Linked DNA regions of Homo sapiens. The protein of the gene in region 1 interacts with the protein of each later gene in a pairwise test. Each region holds a gene or a part of one and is shown on either strand. Other genes may lie near its edges.

Evidence for each region.
Region 2: the proteins of RRM2B (region 1) and ORC4 interact in binary tests that used the Homo sapiens proteins (3 or more experiments, as listed by UniProt).
Region 3: the proteins of RRM2B (region 1) and RNF41 interact in binary tests that used the Homo sapiens proteins (3 or more experiments, as listed by UniProt).

The regions. Positions count from the first base shown.
Region 1 is NC_000008.11:102,234,313-102,244,667, reverse strand, and holds the start of RRM2B (ribonucleoside-diphosphate reductase subunit M2 B), read left to right. Parts: upstream 1-5,706; 5' UTR 5,707-5,793; coding exon 5,794-5,841; exon of another isoform or gene 5,842-5,845; coding exon of another isoform or gene 5,846-6,109; intron 6,110-10,355.
Region 2 is NC_000002.12:148,009,448-148,018,830, reverse strand, and holds part of ORC4 (origin recognition complex subunit 4), read left to right. Parts: intron 1-9,383. UniProt on the Homo sapiens protein: Component of the origin recognition complex (ORC) that binds origins of replication. DNA-binding is ATP-dependent. The specific DNA sequences that define origins of replication have not been identified yet.
Region 3 is NC_000012.12:56,200,389-56,206,015, reverse strand, and holds the end of RNF41 (E3 ubiquitin-protein ligase NRDP1), read left to right. Parts: 3' UTR 1-3,837; downstream 3,838-5,627. UniProt on the Homo sapiens protein: Acts as E3 ubiquitin-protein ligase and regulates the degradation of target proteins. Polyubiquitinates MYD88. Negatively regulates MYD88-dependent production of pro-inflammatory cytokines.

The sequences.
Region 1 (10,355 bases):
ATACCTTCTTCTGGAATACCTCCTGAAGGACCTGCCTGAAGCTATTTTACAGTTACTGATTTTTTTATATATATAATTAGAAGGAGTATACACTAAAATAATGATAACTATAGTAAATACATAAATCAGTAATATAGATTATCACTATCAAGTATTATGTAGTGTACATAATTATATAAGCTATACTTTACACACTGGCAGATTTGTTTACAGTAGCATCAACACAAACACATGAGTAATGTGTTGTGCTATGACTATAACGTCACTATGATAGGAACTTTTCAGCTCCATTATAATCTTATAGGACCACCACCATATATGGGGTCTATCATTGACCAAAATGTTACATGGCACTTGACTGTATCCTATTTGTTAGAAGTTAGTATTAATAGCCGGGTGCCGTGGCTCACGCCTGTAATGTCAGCACTTTGGGAGGCCGAGGCAGGTGAATCACGAGGTCAAGAGATCAAGATGATCCTTGCTAACACGGTGAAACCCCGTCTCTACTAAAAATTAAAAAAATTAGCTGGATGTGGTGGTACTCGCCTGTAATCCCAGCTATTCGGGAGGCTGAGGCAGCAGAATCACTTGAATCCGGAAGGCGGAGGTTGTAGTAAGCCGAGACCGTGCCACTGCACTCCAGCCTGGTGCCCGAGCGAGACTCTGTCTCAAACAAACAAACAAACAAACAAACAAACAAAAGTTAATATTGATGGCCTATATGCAAAGGGAAGTGCATTAGACACCACCTTTTAAGGGGAGGTGTATCCAAGTTCTGGAACAGCATATGGTACCAGAAATATTGTTGTGGCCATTTTTGGAAAATACAATATGCCATAAAGTCCATATGAAGATGCAGAATCCTCTTACTCCTTGAGATCTTTCAGTTACGCGTGTTATTTTTTTCCATTTGCTCTTCCAATAACTTTGAACATCCTGGGGGAAACTCACACTGCCTACACTATTCTGAGTACTGTGATGTTTTTGCTGTGTCATTTAAGAATATTCAATTCTGCCACAGAAATTGAGAGAAACTAAGTATGGGAGCAAATGGCTTGTTAGACATAATGAAATTTGTAAGATGTATTAAGTATAAATAATAAATAATTACACTGTGAGGCATGTTAAAAATAGGATGAATGGAACATATATGTATTGAACATACACAAAAATAATGGAACACATGAGAGTTCCACTTTTAGATTAAAAGGGCTAGAAGGACCAAGTAAATTTTTTTTTTTGAGACGGAGTTTCGCTCTTGTTGCCCAGGCTGGAGGGCAGTGGCACAATCTCAGCTCACCACAACTTCCGCCTCCCAGGTTCAAGCGATTGTTCTGCCTCAGCCTCCCGAGTAGCTGGGATTACACGCTTGCACCACCACGCCTGGCTAATTTTTTATTTTTAGTAGAGACAGGGTTTCTCCACGTTGGTCAGGCTGGTCTCGCACTCCCGACCTCAGGTGATCTGCCCACCTCGGCCTCCCAAAGTGCTGGGATTACAGGCGTGGGACACGGTGCCCAGCCCCAAATAAATCTTAAATATTCATAAGGTAATGATCATGTTACTGCCAGACTGACAACTATGTTATCCCTAAACCAGCCACTCACTGGTGAGATCCACTCTGGCCCCACACGTGCTCTGTCCAAGAAACACAGATACCATCCATAGCTGCTCAGTAGGTTAATTATAACTGGTTATAAATGCAGTTATAGCTGGAGTCAGGTTCCAGCAGTTCTCCAAAAGAAAAGTGTGTGCTGGCTCCACCTTCTACCTGCTGAGCAGTCTTGCTCATCCTCACTATGGTCCTCATAACTACACCACCAGCAAGGAAGTCTGATGCATCAAACAGTACACGAACAGTAACATTAAGATTCAGATGGTATAATCCTTCCACTCTCTCCCCTCCCCACATCCTAACCAAAATATGTTAGTCCACTCAATCTCTTTCCCCTTGCTGTTATGTTTTAAAATGATTTAATAGGGTACAGCTTGTGTGCTTGTTTGGCACAGAACTGGCACCTGTTTTGTGAAGTGGCAGCTAAGAAGACTCTGGCTGACAGAAAGCCCAAAGAAGGAGGCAAGATTGAGAACAACAATCCTATTAATTTGAAGGTGGCAGGGCAGAATGGGTCTGTGGTGCAGTTTAAGATTAAAAGGCATATTCCAGCCGGGCGCAGTGGCTCACACTTGTAATCCCAGCACTTTAGGAGGCCAAGGTGGGCGGATCACCTGAGGTCAGGAGCTCGAGACCAGCCTGGCCAACATGGTGAAACCCCGTCTCCACTAAAAAAAAATACAAGAATTAGCCAGGTGTGGTGGCAGGTGCTTGTAATCCCAGTTACTCGGGAAGCTGAGGCAGGAGAATCACTTGAACCTGGGAGACAGAGGCTGCAGTGAGCCGAGATCCCGCCACTGCACTCCAGCCTGGGTGACAGAATGAGACTCCGTCTTAAAAAAAAAAAAAAAAAGGTGTATACCACTTAGTAAATTAATGAAAGCCTATTGTGAACAGGGTTAGGCAATGAGGTTGATCAGATTCTAGACTTCATGTGCAACCAATCAATGAAATAGACACACCTGTAAAGTTGAAGATGGAGGCTAAAGATACAATTAATGTGTTCCAAGGACAGGAGGTTTTGACTAAAAATGGAGCCTGCTACTTTATTACAGAACTCTGTTCTTACGGACCAAGAATGCATTTTCAATTAGAAAACTGCGATTTGGTTCCATCACACCCTGACTACTACAGTATAGTTTTCTCTATCATTTTCCTCTTCCCCATTACTTTATTATATGTATATATTAGTTACAATGTAACTATGTAAACAATTAAATGTGTAACTGCAAGATCTCTAGGAGTAACAGAATTCTACATCTTCATATAGTCTTTATGGCATATTGTATATGCCATAGTTATAATGCATAAAAGCGTATTGCATTTTTTAACCAAATGGTCAATTTTTTTTTTTTTTTTTTGAGACGGGGTGTTGCTCTTGTTGCCCAGGCTGGAGTGCAGTGGCGCGATCTTGGCTCACCACAACCTCCGTCTCCCGGGTTCAAGTGATTCTCCTGCCTCAGCCTTCCGAGTAGCTGGGATTACAGGCATGCGCCACCGTGCCCGGCTAATTTTGTATTTTTTTAGTAGAGATGGGGTTTCTCCATGTTGGTCAGGCTGGTCTCGAACTCCCGACCTCAGGTGACCCACCCGCCTTGGCCTCCCAAAGTGCTGGGATTACAGGCGTGAGCCACTGCGCCTGGCCCCAATGTTATCTTTTGATCCGCATCAAATGAAGATAGGATGGGCGGAGAAATATGGTTTTGTGAAGACTCCCTTCTCCATTAATGCCATGCTCATTCAGGTCTTATCTTTATATTCCAGTTCGTTATTTTGCTCTGTTTTAACCAAAAAAACCCCACACACAAAACAAAACACCATAACAGTTTTTGCATATCTTCTTCAGTTGAAGAATTGTAATGTATTTTGTTTATGATTGTAAAGCCAAGGACAATTCTTTTTTTTTTTTTGAGACTGAGTTTTGCTCTTGTCATCAAGGCAGGAGTGCAATGGCACAATCTCAGCTCACTGTAACCTCTGCCTCCAGGATTCAAGCTATTCTCCTGCCTCAGCCTCTCAAGTAGCTAGAATTATAGGCATGCGCCAACACGCCCGGCTAATTTTTGTATTTTTAGTAGAGACGGGTTTTGCCATGTTGGTTAGGCTGGTCTCGAACTCCTGGCCTCAGGTGATCCACCCGCCTTGGCCTCCCAAAGTGCTGGGATTACAGGCGTGAGCCACCGTGCCGGCCTAGCCAAGACAATTTTATAACTCTTTGTACGTGGCTATTACATGTAAGGCAATCTTTCAGTAATGACACATTACTCTTAAAAAAAAATCCTAGTTTTCCTTTCAAGTCAAATGTCTTGTTTGAATAAACTTATTTAAAATGAAAATAAATTGATTTAATAAACTGTGTGACTCAGGCATCTCAATTTGATCTGAGCCTTTTGAACTCAGCCATCTGAGTTCCATGACCCTCTGGGATGGCCTGACTCGTACGTGGAAGCTACCATTGCATCAAGGTAATTTCCCACCCCAATAAGTGTTTTACAAGTAATATATTATTAAATTCACACAACAACCTTATGAGGAAGGGATTATTATTCTTATCCTGTAGATGAGAAAGCTGAGTCTCAGAGAGGTTAATTGACCCAAGGTAGCATAGCTAATAAGTGAGGGAACTAGAATTCATGCCCATGATGATATGACTTTTTCACCAAACTCATTCATGTTTGTATCTTGAATACCTAAACGTGATGCCCGACACACAATTATTGTTTGATGACTTTAATTGAATCTGATTATTTGCCACGTGGCCTATAGTAAATTGAGACTCAGTTGCCTAGCAGAATGTATGTGGCTATTATTTAAAGTTCACAGATGAAAAAAATTTCACTCAGCATTTGACCCCTAGTAGTTGCTTTAAGAAAGACTGTCTACCCCTACGCTATGGCAGGTTTGAGAAAGGGCTTTCAGCATTTTCAACGCTTAAAGTGAGATCTTGATCCTATTTACCATCCTTCAGCCAGCCACAAAACAGGTGCATGCTGTTCAGGTCATGGCAAGATCCCGTCAATCTTTCAGCTTCAAACTACTTAAACAAATCTCTCTTCCATTTTATTTTTGTTAGACCAAACTATTTTTTTCAAAATATATTTTTTTCAAAATATTTGCCTGACTTTAGTAACGTGTCCCTCTCCCCCTCACTCACCCGCATTCACACACACACACACACACTTTCCCCCAGACACTTCCCCTTTTCGGTTGTTTACGCACGAAACCAGCCAGCCCTTTCCCTAGCGAAGTGTTTGGCGGTGTAGCTGTCCCGTCCCCGGCGCTTCCCACAGCAACAGCGCGTTCTCTTCGCCTCCCGCAGTCTCTCAGGACAGGCCAGGCTAGCGCAAAGTACCGTGTTCCTGGAACACCACGAGGGCGAGCTCGGGAATCTCGAGCCGGCCTGCAGGACACCTGCCGCACCAAGTGGCTAGAGCCCGGGGAGGGCGAGGCGAGGTGGGACGAGGCGGGGTGGTGAGCGGGCCGGGAAGGCGAGGCCGCGCGGACTCTGGGATAGCTCCTCAGGAGTGGGCGCCCGGAGTGGGCGAGCGGAGGAGGCGGGGCCGATGAGGTGAGGTGGGGCCAGCTGGAGTAGGCTAAGCAGTCCAGAGCAGGGGGCGTCCCTCAGTGGAAAGCCGGGCGACTGGGCGGTGCAACAGAGTAAGGCGGGGCCAGCGGAAGCAGGGAGATTTCCTTAGGCCGCAGGCGGGGAAATGGGGCTGGCCGGGGTAGGCGGAGCCCCGAGGCAGGGGAGGCGTGGCTGGCAGAGGTAGGCGGTGCCCCAAGGCAGGCGGGGCTTGCCGAGACAGGGATAATCCCTTAGGCCACAGGCTGGGAGGCAGGGCAGGCCGAGGCGGGGAGGATCCCTTAGGCCGCAGTAGGGGAGGCGGGTCGGCCGAGGCGGGGAGAAACCCTTAGGCCGCAGGCGGGGAGGCGGGGCTGGCCGAAGTTAGGCGGAGCCCCGAGGCGGGGGAGGCGGGGCCGGGCCGGCGCAGGGAGAGTCACTCAATGGACAGGCGAGAAAGCAGGACCGGCGCGGCGGGGCGGGGCCGGCCGAGTCCCTAGAGCTGGGGGCGGGGCGGACCCAGCGGACCAGCGGACCACCTGGGTGCTGTCGTAGTTGGAGGTGGCCTGAGGAGCTCAGTTCCCTCAGCGCCCGTAGCTTCGGCGGAGTCTGCGCGATGGGCGACCCGGAAAGGCCGGAAGCGGCCGGGCTGGATCAGGATGAGGTAAATGTTGCTGTTGCGTCTTCCCCCTCACCGCAGTCACGCCAGCCCGTTAGATTGCAAGTTGCAGGACCGCTGTAGGAAATGTTATTCGCCGCGGTCAGGACAGGCCTGTCCGCCCGCCCTCGCCGCAGCCTGGCTTCGTCGTTGCGAGCGCCGGGGAGGCCGTCCCCGGGGAGGGCGGAGGAAGGAGCTGACTTTGGGTTTGCGTCCCGCTCGCTGCTCTGCCCCGGGGCCAGCCAAGGACGACGCTTGGAGGCCTCAGGCCGGGGTGAGACTTACCCCTGCGTTTATCCGCCTCACGCTCTCCCACCCTCCTTCCCTGTTTTGGAGCCCTGGCCAGGGAAACCGAGGCAAGGAAAGAGGACTGTGGCGGCTCTGCTGGAGAGGTGCATACCATTTGGGATGGTGACAAGGAGTTGGAGAACGCGTGTGGAAATTGACACAGGTGGCTGGGGTGAAGATGACAGGTAGAAGGGGACACGAAATCCTCATGACCTCCTCCCAGTGAAAAAATCAGGGTAGGAGGCCAGTTTTGCTCAGGCCCGGCTCCTTAACTAACTGAATCTTCGGGGTGTCACTTTCTTCCTTTATACAATGGAAGTGATACTTCAGAGAGAATTAAGTAAAATGCTTTATGCAAAGTGCCACGAAAATTGTAGGTGCTTAATAAGCCCAAGTTGTTCATCCAAGTTGTTTATGCTGATAAAAGTACCTAAAATAAATAAACCAGAATTTGTTAGACTGTAGGATTGTATGGTAGTTTAAACTGTTGCTGTATAATTTTCAAACACTGTCATTTTGCAAATACTTCTAAGCCCTTTGTGGACAAGAGAAATGCTTTTTGTACTACTGGAACCTGTTGCTGTGGTATCTTTGATTTAATACTGTGAAGATTTGGGGGAAACAAACGTTTCCACCCCAAGAGATTCATGCTTGGCCCTACATTTCTTTAGAAAGTTGTAGATTCCAGGTTTGAGATTTTATTTTATTTAACTTGATTTTTGTAAGCATTTAGTAACTAACTGTAAATATCCCTCAAGCTTTTTCTTCCTGTTTTGAAACAAATGCGTTTAGTACCAACTTCCCTACTCAAAGGGGAAAATTCAGACTGCTGTTTATGCTAATGGCACCAGCAGTGATTCAGGCTTAACACCTGGATATTACATTTTATTTATTACTCCTATCTCAATGATACAGACCCGCAAGGACAGACAGAATTTTAGATTCAGAATGAATTTTAGTGGTCCAAAAGTTTTTAACTTGAGATGCTGGGTTGCCTGAAGCACTTTGTTTTTCTAGATGCCAGAGTGCATAATAGGAGACCTGCATCAGAGTCACTTGGAGTATTTTGTAAAAAATGTAAATTGCTGGACCAACACCCCAAACATAGTGAATCAAAATCTCTTGAGATCTGCATTTTTAACAAGTACTTCAGGTGATCCTGGTACACATATTAAAACAAAAACAAAAAACCCCCCACTGTCTTAAAGGGTCCATAGATAGACTAGAAGGGGCTTTATAAATCTCCTGAAGTGATATGTAGATTTTGTATGTGCAGATGTGAATCTTCTGAGAAAGGGGTCCATAGTTATTGTCAATTTCTCAGAGTTAACTATTGCTAATCTAATTCATAGTCTATTGTCAAGGTAAAGTTTAGGCCAGAAAACATTAAATGGCATGCCCAGGACTCAGTAGAGGAGCTAAATTTAAAACCAAGTTCTTGCACCTGGGCGGGTATCCCATTGGTTCCGTCAGACTTTGTGGGAATAGAAGTGAAAATAATACTTACAAGTAGTGTATGACTATGACAACATACAGCTATTTTACAGAAGTAGAAGAGACATAAAGGCAAAGAAACGGAAGTGGTGGAATTGGGGCTGGATAGGAGGTAAGAGCCTGGTATGATGCCAGCCTAGATTGGGGCATCGTAAGTGCTTGCTGGGAAATCTTGACCTAAATTGTTGTCCTGACATGCCCAGGCATGTCTTCCAACTGGGTGACCAGAAATTGAGTCAGTCGGAAACTGGAAGTACCATTCTGGAAAAAACAGCAGAATGTCACTAAGGAATGCCTACTGCTAAACTTTATTTCAAATTCTCATCACTTTACACCTGTGCGGCTATAATAATTTTGTTGTTTCTCTATCTCCTATCTTACCTGCCATTCAATCCTAATTACCATTGCCAAGTTAATCCTTCATTAGACCAGTGCCTCAGTGTCACTGACCCTGTGTCCCCCAAAAAACTCCCAAAAGAGTCTCAATTCCTACCAAAAAGCCTGGCCAACACCTCAGGCTGGTGAAGTCTTGTTGAAGCTGCTTTTTTCATGCTAACTGCCACATCTTAATTCAAGTCCTCATTTCCATCTTTGAAATTGGTTCCTTAGTTGCTTGCAAAATCTAGTTTTTTATCAATTAATCCTATACGTGGTTTTCTGATTAGTCTTCCTAATGCCACCTCTATTCATGTTAATTCCCATTCAGAAACTCTCCATGACTATTTGTACCCCCAAATCTGTGGGGTACAGATTTTCAAACTGTACCCTGCTATGAACGCCAGCACCTGGGGTTGGGGGCAAATGGGGAGAATTGGAGTATGAGCCTTCTAGACCTCCGATGTTTGAAGATCTTTGGCCACAAAATTGATTCCTAACCTCTTAGTCTGATTTATCTTAAGAGTCTAGATCCTTTGCTTTAGCCAAATCACATCATTCCTACTTTTGCTTTTCCTTGTCCTGCATCCATTTCAGCCTGTTTTAATCTCAGCTGGCTTCTCTTCTTTCATCTGCCCTTTAAATATCAGCATTCTCTAAGACTGTATCCTCAGTTGTCTTGCTGCTCTATATGTTCTCTCTGGATAATCACATCCATTCCCTTGGCAACCACTAATGGGATCTCCATCACTCGTGTTCTGCAGTGTTATATTTTTAACTGCTTACTGGACATCTTGAAACTGAATTCATTATCTTTTCTATTCTTTTTTTTTTGAGACGGAGTCTCACTCTGTCACCAGGCTGGAGTACATACAGTGGCACAATCTCGGCTCACTGCAACCTCTGCCTCTTGGGTTCAAGTGATTCTCCTGCCTCAGCCTCCCGAGTAGTTGGGAGTACAGGCGTACGCCACCACGCCCGGCTAATTTTTGTATTTTTAGTAGAGACGGGGTTTCACCATGTTGGCCAGGATGGTCTCAATCTCTTGACCTTGTGATCCGCCCGCCTCGGCCTCCGAAAGTGCTGGGATTACAGGCGTGAGGCACCACGCCGGGCCTGAATTCATTATCTCTTCTAATGACCTAGTTGACTTTGTGAGGATATTGTGTTTGTAACTTTGTTGTTGTCGCCTGGCTTGGTGGGAGGAGTTAAATTAAACTTCCGTTAAACATCTAATGTGAGAAGCAAAATTTTTGTCTGATTTATTTATTTATTCTCCAGGTACTGAGCACCTTGTGTGTGCCTTTTAGATCTTGTTATCACCCAGTTACTGGAGCTGGAAACATCAAGGGCATCTTTAACTGTTCTTGCCCCTTGTCCCAAATTCAAATTTTTAGGAAGAATAATTCATTCTACTTCTGAATATCACTTAAATCAATTTTTGTGTGTGTTTCTAGTTCAGGCAAGAGATGGGTAGTACAATAATCTTTTCATTGTTCTTTCTGCCTCTAATTTCTCTTCTAATCTAGCAATGTTTCTAGAAAAGCGATCTTAAAAGATATATCTGATTATGTTATTTGCCTTATTAAAAACCTTCAGTGGCTCCCAATAGCATACATCTTAGAGTTATTAGATGCCAAAGTGTTTTATATCAAAGCAGACCACTTTAACCTCCAAAATTTTTTAAAAATCAGATTACTACTAACCAATTTTGCTCTTTTATTAACCCTGTAAAAATATAGATACCCATGAGCTTTGAAATTTCTATGTCTAGTAGGCTGCTCTCTCATGCACCCATATATTTCTTTTTGTTTTGTTTTGTTTTTTGAGATGGAGTCTTGCTCTGTCACCAGGCCTGAGTGCAGTGGCGTGATCTCAGCTCACTGCAATCTCTGCCTTCTGGGTTCAAGTGATTCTCCTGCCTCAGCCTCCCGAGTAGCTGGGACTACAGGTACGCGCCACCACACCCAGCTAATTTTTGTATTTTTAGTAGTGACAGGGTTTCACCATGTTGGCCAGGATGGTCTCGATCTCTTGACCTTATGATCCGCCCGCCTCGGCCTCCCAAAGTGCTGGGATTACAGGCGTGAGCCACCGCGCCCTGCCCATCATATCTTTTTTCACATTTTTTTTTTCTTCTAAAATATGGGTTCTTAGATTAGGTCCACAGAGGGTACTGTGGAGAGCCTAGAGTTTCAAGATGCATGAACTTTCTGAAATTGTATTCAAATGTATGTTTGTGCACGTTTCTAAGCATTATGAAATAATACGTCATCTCTAGCCCAGCTCAAAGGTTGATGTTGGTTAACCTCCTTCTCTTCACATTGCAAAATCCCTCATAATACACTCCTAATCCAGCTACT
Region 2 (9,383 bases), on another chromosome or scaffold:
TTTTCAGTGGTTAACACTATACTGATTTTTATGGCAATCATTTACTGCTTTCTTTCTTAGTATTTCTTAACCACCTATGTCAGCATTCCTAAGCAATTTAGGTTCGTTTTGCCTGTTTCTTAATTGTATGTAAGTGGATTATATATTACATATCATTATGTATCTTTTTCTCTCATGCAGCTGGGATATAACTCTATTAGTACATTTAGCTCTAGTTCTTATATTGGATTGTAGTAATCTATAGTATAATAAGTATAGTATAAAAAGTCTTAATGGAAATGAGCCACAGTTTAGTCTAATATTAATAAACATTTGGATTGTGTTCCGTTTTTAGTAGTTATGAACAATGCTATTATGAATGTTCTTGTACATGTATTCTTAATGTACATTACCATGGGTTTTTGTAGAGTACGTATGTTTATCTTCAACTTCACTAGTTATGCCTTTTCCAAAGTAGATACACCAATGTATACCCCGACAGCAGTATATGGTAGATCCCTTTACTTTTACTGTCTCACCAAGAGTTATTTTTCCTTTTTCCCAACTTGATGAATGTGGCTTTATCTTATTGTTGTTTTAATTTATTCTGCCCAGGACACTAAAGAGTTTGAGCACTTTTTCAAAAACTTACCGGCTATTTGAATTTCCTCTTTCTAGAATTGTCTTTTTAATTCTTAAATCTTTTGTGCATTGTCTTTTTAAATCTTTTTGGGAGGTTTTTTTGTTTGTTTGTTTTTTGTTTTAATTGGGTTGTCTGTTTTACTCAGGGATTTCTAGCAGTATGGCCAATATCTTCTCTGTGCTTGGAGCATTACTCTCTTCTGGGATGGCAACTTTTATCTTCATGTAGGTCTTATAGGCTGTCATTGTTCTTTGAATTGTATACGTAGTTTAAACTCCAGATAACAAGTTCTATGCTTGTGCTATTCATTGCAGTAGCTACTAGCTGCGTGTGGCTTTTGAGCACTTGAAATGTGGCTAGTATGACTGAGGAACTGAATTTTTAGTTTTATTTAGTGTTCAATTAAGTTTAAAAACTGACACTTGATTCAGTTACTGTAAAACCTGTATGTTTGGAACAACTCGGATACATAAACCTTTCTTAACCGCAAATTATTAAATTATTATTTTTTAATTTTTGGAGATTTTTTCCCCCCTGGAGATGGAGTCTCGCTCTGTTGCCCAGGCTGGAGTCCAGTGGCATGATCTTGGCTCACTGCAACCTCCGCCTCCCAAGTTCAAGTGATTCTCCTGCCTCAGCCTCCCTAGTAGCTGGGATTACAAGCATGTGCCACCACACCTGGCTAATGTTTTTATTTCTAGTAGAGGCAAAGTTTCACCATTTTGGCTAGGCTGGTCTCAAACTCCTGACCTCAAGTGATCCACCCACCTTGGGCTTCCAAAGTGATGGGATCACAGACGTGAGCCACTGCACCCGGCATTAGCTGCAAATTATATAAAAATATAGATCAAGTATTTTATATGGCAGTTTTAATTTAGCATCTGCATTGTAATGTTGTATAAACACCATATTTCAAAGACAGTATGAAAACAATGTAAAATACCTCAGCTTTTCATTATGATTACATGTTGAAATTATAATTGATTTCACCTTGTTTTCTTTTAGTGTGAACAATAGAAAATTTTAAATTACTTATGTCACTTTTACTGTATTGCTGCTGGACAGTACTTTGAGCTAGATGTTCCTATGTGTTTACCATGTCTTAATTTCTTCCTGCGTCTCTGACTTTTCTTTTGGAATCTTTTAACTTTTACTTTAGCACACTCAGTAGAAGTTTCATAATGCAGACATTCTGATGGTCAGTTCTCTTAATTTTTTTGCTTTGTCTTAATTTTTTGTTTTGCCTTCAATCTTGAAGAATGTTTTGGGGGATATTACAGATTTGTGGTTGTTTTACTTGTACCTTGAAGATAACATTTCACTGTTTTTGGTTTTCATTATTGATTTTGAGAAATCAGCTGTCAATGCATTAGGTTGGTACAAAAGAAATTGTGGTTTGGGACAGCGAATTTTAAATCATTATAACGAGGCTCTAACATATCTTTATTAATTAAAATAGGTCATTACAATCAACACATTTTTGCCGACAAGAAATAAGTTTGTTTTTTCCTGTAATGTAAAAATCCATGCTTCAGGATTCCACAAACTCTTGGAAAGCTTTTTCCTGCATCCTGCTGGTTGTGGAAGCATTTTCCCTGAAAAAAGTTGTAGAGATGCTTGAAGGAGTGGTAGTCAGTTGAGAGGTCAGGTGAATATGGCAGATGAGGCAAAACTTTGTAGCCCAGTTCGTTCAACTTTTGAAGTGTTGGTTGTGCAGTGTGCGGTTGGGTGTTACTGTGGAGAATTGGGCCCTTTCTGTTGACCCATGCTGGCTGCAGGCATCACAGTTTTAAGTGCATCTCATTGATTTGCTGAGCATACTTCTCAGATGTAATGGTTTCTCCAGGATTCAGAAAGCTGTAGTGGATCAGACCGGCAGCAGACCAGCAAACAGTTACCATGGCCTTTTTTGGTGCAAGTTTGGCTTTGGGAAGTGCTTTGGAGCTTCTTCGCGGTCCAGCCACTGAGCTGGTCATTGCTTGTCATATAAAATCTAGTTTTTGTTGCACCTCACAGTCCGATTGAGAAATGGTTCGTTGTTGTGGAGAATAAGAGAAGACAACACTTCAAAACGGTGTTTTTTTAAATTTTTGCTCAGCTGGTGAGGCACCCACTTATCGAGCTTTTTCACCTTTTCAATTTGCTTCAAATACTGAACAACTGTGGAATGGTTGACGTTGAGTTCTTACGTTGAGTTCTTCAGCAACTTCTCATGTAATTGTAAGAGGATCAATCTGCTTCAATGATTGCTCTCAATTGGTTGTTGTCAACTTCCAGTGGCCTGCCACTACACTCCTCATCCTCAAGGCTCTGGTATCTTTTGCAAAACTTCTTGAACCACCACTGCACTGTACGTTCATTAGCAGTTCCTGGGCCAAATGCATTGTTGATATTGCAAGTTGTCTCTGCTGTTTTACGACCCACTTTGAACTTAAATAAGAAAATCACTCAACTTTGCTTTTTGTCTAGCATCATTTCCATAGTCCAAAATAAATATAAACAGCAAGTAATAAGTCATTAGCCAAAAAAAAAAAGCAAGAAATGCCCATTAAAATGACATATAACATAACCACATTTATTTAAGAATGTATTCCAGGCCGGGTGTGGTGGCTCACACCTGTAATCCCAGCACTTTGGGAGGCTGAGGTGGGCGGATCACGAGGTCAGGAGATCGATACCATCCTGGCTAACATGGTGAGACCCTGTCTCTACTAAAAATACAAAAAATTAGCCAGGCGTGGTGGCGGGTGCCTGTAGTCCCAGCTACTCAGAAGGCTGAGGCAGGAGAATGGTGTGAACCCTGGAGGCAGAGCTTGCAGTGAGCCGAGATCGCGCCACTGCAGCCCAGCCTGGGCAACAGAGAGAGACTCCATCTCAAAAAAAAAAAAAAAAAAAAAAAAATTCCAATATCAAATGGCAAATTCCAACAATGCAAAAACCACAATTAATTTTGTACCAACCTAATAATTCATGCTGCTTTGAAGGAAATCTCTCTTTTAGAATTTTTTTTTGTTTGTTTCTTTTTTTGGTTGTAATTTTTCTGCTGTTTCACTCTAATCTTTTTGTGTGGAATTCTTTTCTTCTTTTTTTTTTTTCTCCTAGTCAAGTGTGGTTGTGGGGGTAGAGGAAATGTTCAATCATCGTGTGGCATTCTTTATCTTGCCCTGTATTCATCGAGATTATTAGATCAATGCATCAGTATCTTTTTAAAGATATTGGTGATATTCTTACTGTTTCTGGTTACCTGCTGAAAATTACAATCTTGCTTTTATTGGCCTAGTATAGTTGCTCCTTAGTATCTGCTGGAAATTGGTTTCAGAACCCCGTGCAGATACCACAATCCACAGGCAGCTCAAATTCCTTATATAACATGCCATCATGTTTGCATACGGCCTACACACATCCTCCCACGTATTTTAAATAATCTCTAGATTGCTTATGGTACCTAATACAATGTAGATGCTATGTAAATATTGTTATACTGTCATGGCTTTTTAAAAATTTCTATTATTTTTTATAGTCGTGTTTTTAAAAATATACATGTATTTTTAATCCTTGGTTGAGTGAATCTGTGGCTATGAAGGGCCGACTATATTCATAGTTCATTTGTTGTTTGTTGAAGATAATTCCAGTTTCTAAATTTTCTAAGTCTGTGTCTGCTAGCTTATGATATTTTTTTCTTGTGTGCCTTGAGTACCAGTTGTATTTAAAAAATTATAGGAATATATGAGTCCTAGAATAATAGTATCTTTTTTAAGAAGGTACATTTTTCTAGGAAAGGTCTCTAGGAGTGCTTTCAGTCCCAAGTCACTATTCATGTTCAAGAGTTGGGATTCCTTCTGTTATACACATGACATTAAGGAAGACTTTAAGATCATGAATTCTATTTTCCTTCAATTTCCTCTTATCCTAATGATGTTGTCCTTAAACTCTGAACATAAATTGGGTAGTTTATCTGAGTCCCCAGCTTTGTTAGGCAATGTGCTTTTATTTTTATTTTTGATTTTGATTTTTTGTGTTTATTTTTATTTTAAATGAGGTCTCGCTGTATTGCACACAATCATCCTGAATTCCTGGGCTCAAGCTATCCTCCTGCCTTGGCCTGTCAAAGGATAGGATTACAGGCATGAGCCACCACACCTGGCCTTGTGCTTTGATTTTTTTACCATAGACCGGCACATCTTCCATTAGCTCAGCCTTTTTTCTCAGCCTTTTCTTCTAGACAGGAAAATGTCCTCAGAACAAAAGTTACTTGGTGTATGGTTTGTTTCTGGTTTACCTTCACATGGAATTTGGTAAGTAATTTCACATTACTTTATTTCATTCATTATTTAGTTTTTTTGTTGGCGTCAGCAGAAAGGTTGGTCCTGTCTGCCACTACCATAAATAAAACCCTAATTGTCTTTCTTTTTTACTTCTGAGATTTGATTTTAATATATTTATGCTTTGAGCCAAAATTTTTTTAACTTAACTCATATATTTAAAAATTTTAATTTTTAATTACTATGGATACATAAAATGGGGAGTATGTGATATTTGATATAAGCATACAATGTGTAATGATCAAATCAGGTAATTGGGATATCCATTACCTCAAGTATTTGTCATTTCTTTGTGTTAGGGACATTTCATTTCCACTCATTTAATTGTTCTAAAACATACACTAAATTATTGTTAGCTGTAATTACTATATTGTGCTACTGAACACTATATTTTATTCCTTCTATCTAACTATATTTTTCTACCCATTAACCATCTCCTCTTGATTCTCCTCTCAACACTACCCTTCCCAGCCTCTGCTAACATCTTTTTACTCACTATCTCTATGACTTCAATTTTTTTGAAGCTTCCACATATGGGTGAGAACATGTGATACTTGTCTTTCTATGCCTGGCTTATTTCCCTTATAATGTCAGTCACATCCATATTGTTGAAAATGACAGGATTTCATTTTTTTTTTATGGCTGAATAACATTCCATTGTGTATATGTACCACATTTCTTTATCCATCCATTGATTGACAGTTAGGTTGATTCCATATCCTGGCTATTGTGTATAGTGCTGCAGTTAACATGGGAGTACAGATACCTTTTATATACTGATTTCCTTTCTCTTGGGTATATACACAGTAGTGGGATTGCTGGATTATAGTTCTATTTGTTGTGTTTTTAGGAAGCTCCATACTGTTCTCTGTTGTGACTGTGCCAGTTTACATTTCCACCAACAGTGTACAAGGGTTCCCCTTTCTCCACATTCTCACCAGCATCTGATATTGACTGCCTTTTCGATAAAAGCCATTTTAACTGGAGTGAGTTGATACCTCATTATAGTTTTGATTTGTATTTCTCTGATTATTAATAATGTGGAACATTTTTTTCATATGCCTGTTTGCCATTTGTATGTCTTTTTGAGAAATGTCTCCTCAGATCTTTTGCCCATTTTAAAATCAGATTTTTTTTTCCTATTGAGTCGTTTGAGATTCTTATATATTCTGGTTATTAATCCTTTGTCAGATATTAGTTTGAAATATTTTCTCCCATTCTACATGTTATATCTTCATTTTATTGTTTTCATTGCTGTGCAGAAGCTTTTTGGCTTGGAGAGATCTCATTTGTTGTTATTTTATTTTATTTTCTTGCTTTAGTTGCTTGTGTTTTTGAGGTCTTATTTAAGAAGTCTTTGCCTAGACCAATGTCCTGGAGTTTTTGCCTAATGGTTTCCTTGATTAGTTTCATAGATGTAAGTCTTTAATGCATTTTTCTTTGATTTTTGTATATGGCAAGAGTTGGGGTCTACTTTTGTTGTTCTGAATGTGGGCATCCAGTTTTCCCAACACCATTTATTGAAGAGACTGTCCTTTCCCAATGAGTGTTTTTGGCACCTTAGTAAAAAACTAATTGGCTTTAAATACACAGATTAATTTCTGGACTCTCTGTTCTGTTGTTCTACATGTCTGTTTTTATGCCACTATCGTGCTATTTTGGTTACTATAGCGTTGTAGTATATTTTGAGGTTTGGTAGTGTGGTAAGTCTACCAGTTACCAGCTCTGTTCTTTTTGGTCAGGATTGTTTTGGCTATTTGGGGTCTTTTGTGCTTCCATACAATTTTAGGATTTTTTTTTTCTATTTCTGTGAAGAATGTCATTGCTCTTGATAGGGATGGCTTTGAATCTGTAGATTGCTGTGGGAAGTATTGTCATTTTAACAATACAATTTTTTTCAACCCATGAGCATGGGATGTCTTTTCATTTGTTTGTGTCCTCTTCAATTAATTTCATCAATGTTTGATAGTTTGCATTGTAGTTGGTTAAGTTTATTTCTAGATATTTAATATTATTTGTAGCTATTGTAAATGGGATCACCTTCTTGATTTCTTTTTCAGATAGGTTGTCACTGTTGGCATAGAGAAATTCTATGGATTTTTGTGTGTTGATTTTGTATTCTGCAATGTTACTGAATTTATTAGTTCTAATAGTCGTTTGTTGGAGTCTTTAGGTTAGTATAAGATCACATGAGCTGCAAACAATGATAATTTTACTTACTCCTTTCCAATTTAAATGCCCTTTATTTCATTCTCTTGTCTGTTTACTCTGGCTAGGACTTCTGTTACTAACTTGAGTAATAGTGGTGAAAGTGCCCATCCTTCTTCTAGATCCTAGAATAAAGGCTTTCAGTTTTTCCCCCATTCAGTCTGATACTAACTGTGGGTTTGTTGTGTATGGCTTTATCATGTTGAGGGATGATCCTTCTGTCCCCAGTTTGCTGAGAGTTTTTATGAAGGGATATTGAATTTTATCAAAAAAGATTTTTTTGGCATCTATTGAAATGACAATACACTTTGTGTCCTTCATTCTGTTGATACCATGTATCACACTGATTGATTTACATATGTTGAACCATCCTTACATCCCTGGGATGAATCCCACTTGATTATGATGATCTTTTTAATGTGCTGTTGAATTTGGTTTGCTGTGTTTTGTTGAAGATTTTTATATCTATTTTCATCAGAGATACTGGCCTGTAGTTTCTTTTTTGTTGTTGTTGTATCGTTGTCTGGTTTTGGTATCAGAATAAATCTGGGGCCAGGCATGGTAGCTCACGCCAGTAATCCCAGAACTTTGGGAGGCTGAGGCAGGCAGATCTCTTGAAGCCAGGAGTTTGAGACCAGCCTGGCCGACATGGTGAAACCCCATCTCTACAAAAAATACAAAAATTAGCTGGGCATGGTGGCTTATGCCTGTAATCCCAGCTAATCTGGAGGCTGAGGCAGGAGAATCGCTTGAACCCAGTAGGTGGAGGTTGCAGATCACCTGGGCAACAGAGTGAGACTCTGTCTCAAAAAAAAAAAAAAAAAAAAAAAGAATAAATCTGGCCTCATAAAATGAATTTGGAGATCCTCCTTGATTTTGGAGAATGATTTGAGTAGGATTGATGTTAGTTCTTCTTTAAATGTTTGGTAGAACTCAGTGAAGCCATGAAGTCCTGGCCTTTTCTGTGATGGGGGACTTTTTATTATTGTTTCTATCTTGAAACTTATTATGGGTCTATTTCGATTTTGGTTTTCTTAATGTTTCATTCTTCTTAGGCTGTATGTGCCTAGGAATTTATTCGTTTCTTCTAGGTTTTACAATTTATTGGCATGCAGTTGTTCAAATGGTCTCCAATGATCCTTTGAATTTTTGTGATATCAATTGTAATGTCTCCTTTTTTGTCTCTGATTTTATTTGGATCTTCTTTTTTTTCTTTTCTTAGTCTGGGTAAAGGTTCATTGATTTTGTCTGTCTTTCCAAACAACCCTTTTCATTTCATTGATCTTTTCTATTTTTTTGTCTCAATTTTATTTCTGTTTTTTATTATTTATTTTCTTGTTTTCTTTATTATTTCTCTTCTTAATTTGGGGCTTGGCATGCTCTTGCTTTTCTAGTTCTTTAAGATGCATTACTAGGTTGTTTATTTCTTGGTTTTCTACTTTTTGATTTGCACATTTATTGCTATAAACATTCCCTTTAGTGTTAGCTTTAACTGTATCTCATAAGTTTTAGTAGGTTGTGTTTCCATTTTCATTTGTTTCAAGACATTTTTTAATTTCCTTAATTACTTCATTGGTTGTTCAGGCACGTATTGTTTAATTCTTATATGTTTGTATAGTTTCCAAAGTTCCACTTGTTATTTATTTCTACTTTTATTCCATTGTGGTTAGAAAATATACTTTTTATCAGACTTGTTTTGCGGCCTAACATGATGGTGCTCTTTTTGGATTTCTGTTTGCATGCAATGTCTCTTTCCATCTTTTGGTCTATCTATGTTTTTATAAATGAAGTGGGTTTCTTATATGTAGCAGGTAGTAGGGCCTTGTTTTGTTTAGCCCTTCAGCTCTTCTGTGTCTTTTGATTGGAGAATTTAGGATCCATCCTTGAGAAATGTTCCATGTGCTAAGGAGAAGAATGTATTCTGCGGCTGTTGGATGACAGCTTCTGTAAATGTCTATTAGGTCCATTTAATCTATAGTGCAGATTAAATTCATTGTTTCTTTCTGTCTAGATGATCTGTCCAATGGTGAAAGTGGGCTGTTGAAGTCCCAAGTCATTACTGTATTGGGTTCTGTCTCCTTAACTCTAATACACTTGACTCTATATATCTAGATGCTTCTGTGTTGGATAGATATGTATTTATAATTTTTATGTCCTCTTGCTGAATTAAAACCTTTTGTATTATATGATAACCTTTTTTTCTTTCTTCATAGTTTTTATGTTGAAATCTA
Region 3 (5,627 bases), on another chromosome or scaffold:
AATGGTAAGGGTGGAGCCAAATCTCTAGAAATAAGTAGTGAGGCCGTTAATTGGCCATCACTGATGGCCCTTAGGGAAAGACTGGACCTCTGTGCCAAGCAGTATCCCTGTTCAGCCCACCTTAAAGGTGTAGGCACCCACTGGGTCTACCAGTATGCAGGTTGGGATACTGAAAATTTCCAGATGAGCTCTTCTTTCCTACAAGTTTTCATAATTAGGGAATGCCAGGGTTTAGGGTAGGGGTTAATCTGTTGGGGGTTGATGTGTTTAGCAAGAAGCTACTCCTAGCTTTTGCTAAAATATGGTTGGCACTGCCTCTTGTGGCACAGGCCATAATTGTTCCATAGACCCCTCTCTAGCCCTGTGACTGTAGTTAGTTACTTTGATAATTTTCTTTGGCCATTGTTTGTTTATATTTCACAAACTCCACCTACTGCCCCCCCCCCTCTTTTTTTTAAGAATGGCCTGATCATGGCTATCTCAGCCACATTGTTGGCAATTTAATTTATTTACTTCCTTTTTTTTTTTTTAAGAAAGGAAAAAAGAAAAAAAAATCAAACTTGAAACTTTTCTTTTGATGTTCCTATTGTGGGGGTTCTGGATAGGGTGGGACAGGGATGGGGGTGTGTTTTATATTTTTTCCTTTTCAGCACAACCTTTGGCTTTAATATAGGAAGAGCCAAGGGAGTCCTCGGCTGAACTTACGATATCTGCCCCAAACCTCTGTAACCCCAACTGAAATGAGGAGCTTCCTCTCTTCCTGTGAAGGATATGACAGTCCAGCATCGATGCCTGTGCCCTCTGGAAAAATTTCCTCCTAGCCCTTCCAGGGCCTTATCATAAAACTCTGGATTTAGAGTATTCATTTTGAAGGCAACTCCCCCTTCCCCAAGTTTCCTTGGAGCTGTATAGCTGGGTTCTAAGCTTCACCATGCAAATCAGAAATTTTATCTCTAAGTACAGGCTGTGCCGTGTCTCACCCACACCCCCCTGGGGACTTCAGTTCCATTTCAGGTTACCTGGGGTATACCTTGATCCCTAGAGTGACTGGCAGAGTAAGAGAAGGGGAGAGATAATAGGTGTGATTATTTTAATATGGAGGTGGGAGTGTGGTTGGAGATAGAAAGGCTCCTCCCCACCATGTAATGGCTTCCTCTCAGAATTTTATTCCAGGCTAGCTTGCTGCAGGTCTGGGTAGTTGGATCATGGCTCCACTGGGATTGGGGTGGAAAGCTTGAGGGGAGTAGGGTTCCAGCTCTGGGACATTGTGCTCAGGAATTTGAAAACGCTGCTATACTTACTCTGGTTACTACATTTCTTCCACTCCCCTTTCCCCTACCTGCCTTAACCAAGGCTCATACTGTCCTGTCCTTACCCTCAGATGGAGCCAGGAAGCTCAGTGAAAGGCTTCCCTACCCTTTGCACTAGTGTCTCTGCAGGTTGCTGGTTGTGTTGTATGTGCTGTTCCATGGTGTTGACTGCACTAATAATAAACCTTTTACTCAACTCTCTAAATTCTTCAGCATTACTCCCTTTCTTGAGAAGGTTTCCCCTCTGCTTTTGCCTTTCTCTCACCTTAATTCCCTTTCTTCCTTACTTTGTTACCTACCCTTATCTTAGTGCTAACTTCTCTTTCAGGAGGATGTCTGGGAGTAGTGTGCACTTCACAGCTGCTTTCCCATGTACCCTCCTGCATTCTTCCCTCCTATCTCCTGTTCTGTAGCAGCCAAAGCTCTCTAGTGATCTGAACTGTGTGCTTCCCAGGGTCTGCCTTTATCCTAAATTCCATGTCTTCCCTGAGTGGTCCTGAGTTTTTGGGATAATTTCTACAGAAGATATGTATATATCTTTTTCCTTTGTCCCACAAGCAACTTTGCTTTAGAATCTAGAATTCCTTTGCAGGCAGAGAAGTCTCTACCTCCCAGTGTTTCCTAGCTAAGAACGTAAATGTGAGGAGGGAAATGTACTTGCAGAGGTTTCATAATTATTTACTTATAAAAATAGTCTTCATAGCCGGGCGCGGTGGCTCACGCCTGTAATCCCAGCACTTTGGGAGGCCGAGGTGGGTGGATCACAAGGTCAGGAGTTCGAGACCATCCTGGCTAACACAGTGAAACCCCGTCTCTACTAAAAATACAAAAAATTAGCCGGGCGTGGTGGCAGGCACCTGTAGTCCCAGCTACTTAGGAGGCTGAGGCAGGAGAATGGCGTGAACCCGGGAGGCAGAGCTTGCAGTGAGCAGAGATTGGGCCACTGCATTCCAGCCTGGGCGACAGAGCAAGGCTCCGTCTAAAAAAAAAAAAAAAAAAAAAAGTCTTCATAGGCCGGGCACGGTGGCTCACGTCTGTAATCCCAGCACTTTGGGAGGCCAAGGTGGGTGGATCACAACGTCAGGAGATCGAGACCATCCTGGCTAACATGGTGAAACCCTGTCTCTACTAAAAATATAAATAAATTAGCCGGACAGGCGCCTGTCCTCCCAGCTACTCAGGAGGCTGAGGCAGGAGAATGGTGTGAACCTGGGAGGCGGAGCTTGCAGTGAGCTGAGATCACGCCACTGCACTCCAGCCTGGGCAACAGAGCAAGACTCCGTCTCAAAAAAAAAAAAAAAAAAACCAGTCTTCATAAGTATTTGCTGCTACCTTTCCCTGTCATAAGAAAAAGGATAGCCAGACATGGTGGGACGCCACTATGATCCCAGCTCCTTGGAAGGCTAAGGCACAAGAATCGCTTGAACCTGGGAGGTGGAGGTTGCAGTGAGCTGAGATCATGCCACTGCACTCCAGCCTGGTGACAGAGCAAGAGCCTGTCTCAAAAAAAAAAAAGAAAAGAAAAGAAAAAGGGATATCTTTTCCTCCTCCCAGAAGTTTGTTTTAAATTTGAGCATTTATCATGCACCTGATGTAAACCTAATAGTACTCTTGATACTCTAGTGGCTTGAAAAAAAAAAAAAAGGCATTTCTGTGCTGAGTCTGCGCTTCTATGCACACAAGGTATGTTTATAAAATACTGATAAGCATGTCACAGTATAGAGCATAAGAGGCAATGTATGTATCCTAGTGACATTAGCAGTGCTTTTCCCCCCTTAAACTCCTTTAAAATTACTTTTAGAACTTGCTGCTCATTCTTGTGAATGTTATGAATGGTGTCATATTGTCCTTTTACAGAAGATACGATTTTTAGAAACAAATATTCATTGAATGTCTGCCCTGTGAGATACTCACTAGAGTGAACATGAGGAGGCTTATGTAGCAAAATGGCACCTACCTGCAAAGAACTTAGTCCCTAATGGAGATGAATATATAATAAGGGATCATAAATGTGCTAAGTGGATTTACTAGTAATATGTGAGCCAAGGACGATAAAGCTCCTGATTCTGATGGGTATCAGGAAAGGCTTTTCAGGAAGTGTTACTTGTTATAGGTCAGAGGTCAGCAAACTACAGGTTACAACCCCACTGCCTGCTTTTGTAAAAAACTTTATTGGAATACAGTTATGCCCACTTGTTTATATATTGTCTGTGGCTGCTTTCACATTACAACAGCAGGGTTAAGTAGCTGGAACAAAGCCTAAAATACTTGGTCTTTTACAGAAAAAAATTTGCCAACCTGTTCTAAACTTTTAAGGTCAGGAGAACTGGGGGAAGGAGGGAGTAGAAAGAACACTGTCACCCAGACTGGAGTGCAGTGGCACCATCATATAGCTCACTGTAGCCTCAAACTCCTGGGCTCTAGTGGTCTTCCCACTTCAGCTTCTGGAGTAGCTGGGGCTACTGCACCTGGAATTGTCTTAATCTGTTTTAATACTAGTAAAATTTTTTTTGTTTCATCTCTTTCAGTGACTTTGATACACTGTCTTAATTTTTTTTTTTTTTTTTTTTTTTTTTTTAGATAGGGTCTGGCTCTGTAGCTGAGGCTGGAGTGCATGACGTAATTTTGGCTCACTGCAACCTCCACCTCCCAGGCTCAAGTGATCCTCCTACCTCAGCCTCTTAGGTAGCTGGGACCACAGGCATGCGCCACCACACCGGGCTAATTTTTTGTATTTTTTGTAGAGATGGGGTTTCACCATGTTGCTGAGGCTGGTCTCAAACTCCTGAGCTCAAGGAATCCACCTGCCTTGGCCTCCCAAAGTGCTGGGATTACAAGTGTGAGCCACTGCACCTGGCTTCATTGTCTTAATTTTTTACTTCAGTATATACATTGGAAAAATAAAAATATTTTTGACATTACCTAAATAACAAGTGTTTACAATTAACAATGTATAATGAATAATCTACTACAAACCCATGTTTACATTACCCTAATTGTCCCAAGAAAAGTCTTTTTTTTTTTTTTGACACAGGATCTCACTCTTGTCACCTAGGCTAGAGTGCAGTGGCACAATCACGACTCACTACAGCTCACTATAGCCTTGACCTCCTGCTGGGCTCAAGCAGTCCTCCCATCTCAGCCTCCCAAGCAGCTGGGACCACAGATGTGCACCACCATGCCCAGCTGATTTGTTTCTTGTATATTTTGTAGAGACAGGGTTTCACCATGTTGCCCAGGTTGGTCTCAAACTCCTGAGCTCAAGTGATCTGCCCACCTCAGCCTCCCAAAGTGTTGGGATTACAAGTGTGAGCCATTGCACCTGTCTGAAAAGTCCTTTTGTAGCTAATTTGTGTCTAAACCTGGGTCCAATCCAGGACCACGAATTACATCAGGTTATTTCTCTTTTACCCTCTATCTGGGTTCATGAAACCACCTTTTTTTGTGTAACCCTAATTTGTTGAAAAGATTGGCCAGGCGCGGGGGCTCATGCCTGTAATCCCAGCACTTTGGGAGGCCGAGGCGGGCGGATCACGAGGTCATGAGATCGAGACCATCCTGGCTAACATGGTGAAACCCCGTCTCTGCTAAAAATATAAAAAAAAAAATTAGCCAGGCGTGGTGGCGGGCGCCTGTAGTCCCAGCTACTCGGGAGGCTGAGGCAGGAGAATTGCGTGAACCCAGGAGGCGGAGCTTGCAGTGAGCCGAGATCGTGCCACTGCACTCCAGCCTGGGAGACAGAGCAAGACTCCGTCTCAAAGAAAAGAAAAGATTGAGCCAGTTTTCTGGAGAATGGTCGTTTGAACTTGACTGCTTTTTTTCTTTTCAGATGGGGTCTCGCTTTGTCCCCCAGGCAGGAGTGCAGTGGCACGATCTCAGCTCGCTGCAACCTCCACCTCCTGGGCTCAAGTGATTCTCTTGCCTCATCAGCCTCCCAAGTAGCTGGGACTACAGGCACGTGCCACCATGCCCGGCTAATTTTTGTATTTTTAGTAAAGACGGGGTTTTAAACCTATGTTGGGCCGGCTGGTCTTGAACTCCTGACCTCAACTGATCCACCCGCCTTGGCCTCCCAAAGTGCTTGGATTACAGGCATGAGCCACCGCGCCTGGCCTAGCCCGTTTTACTAAACAAAATTAGATAGGGCCTTGAGAGATTCAAGTTAGACAGTTCTGGGGATAGAACACATCACAGGAGAGAGAAGTTCTTCATTTTGTAACATTAGGAGATATGCCCTATTGCCCCATCATTAGCCTGATTCTTTTTTTTTTTTTTTTTTTTTTTGAGACCGAGTTTTGCTCTTGTTGCCCAGGCTGG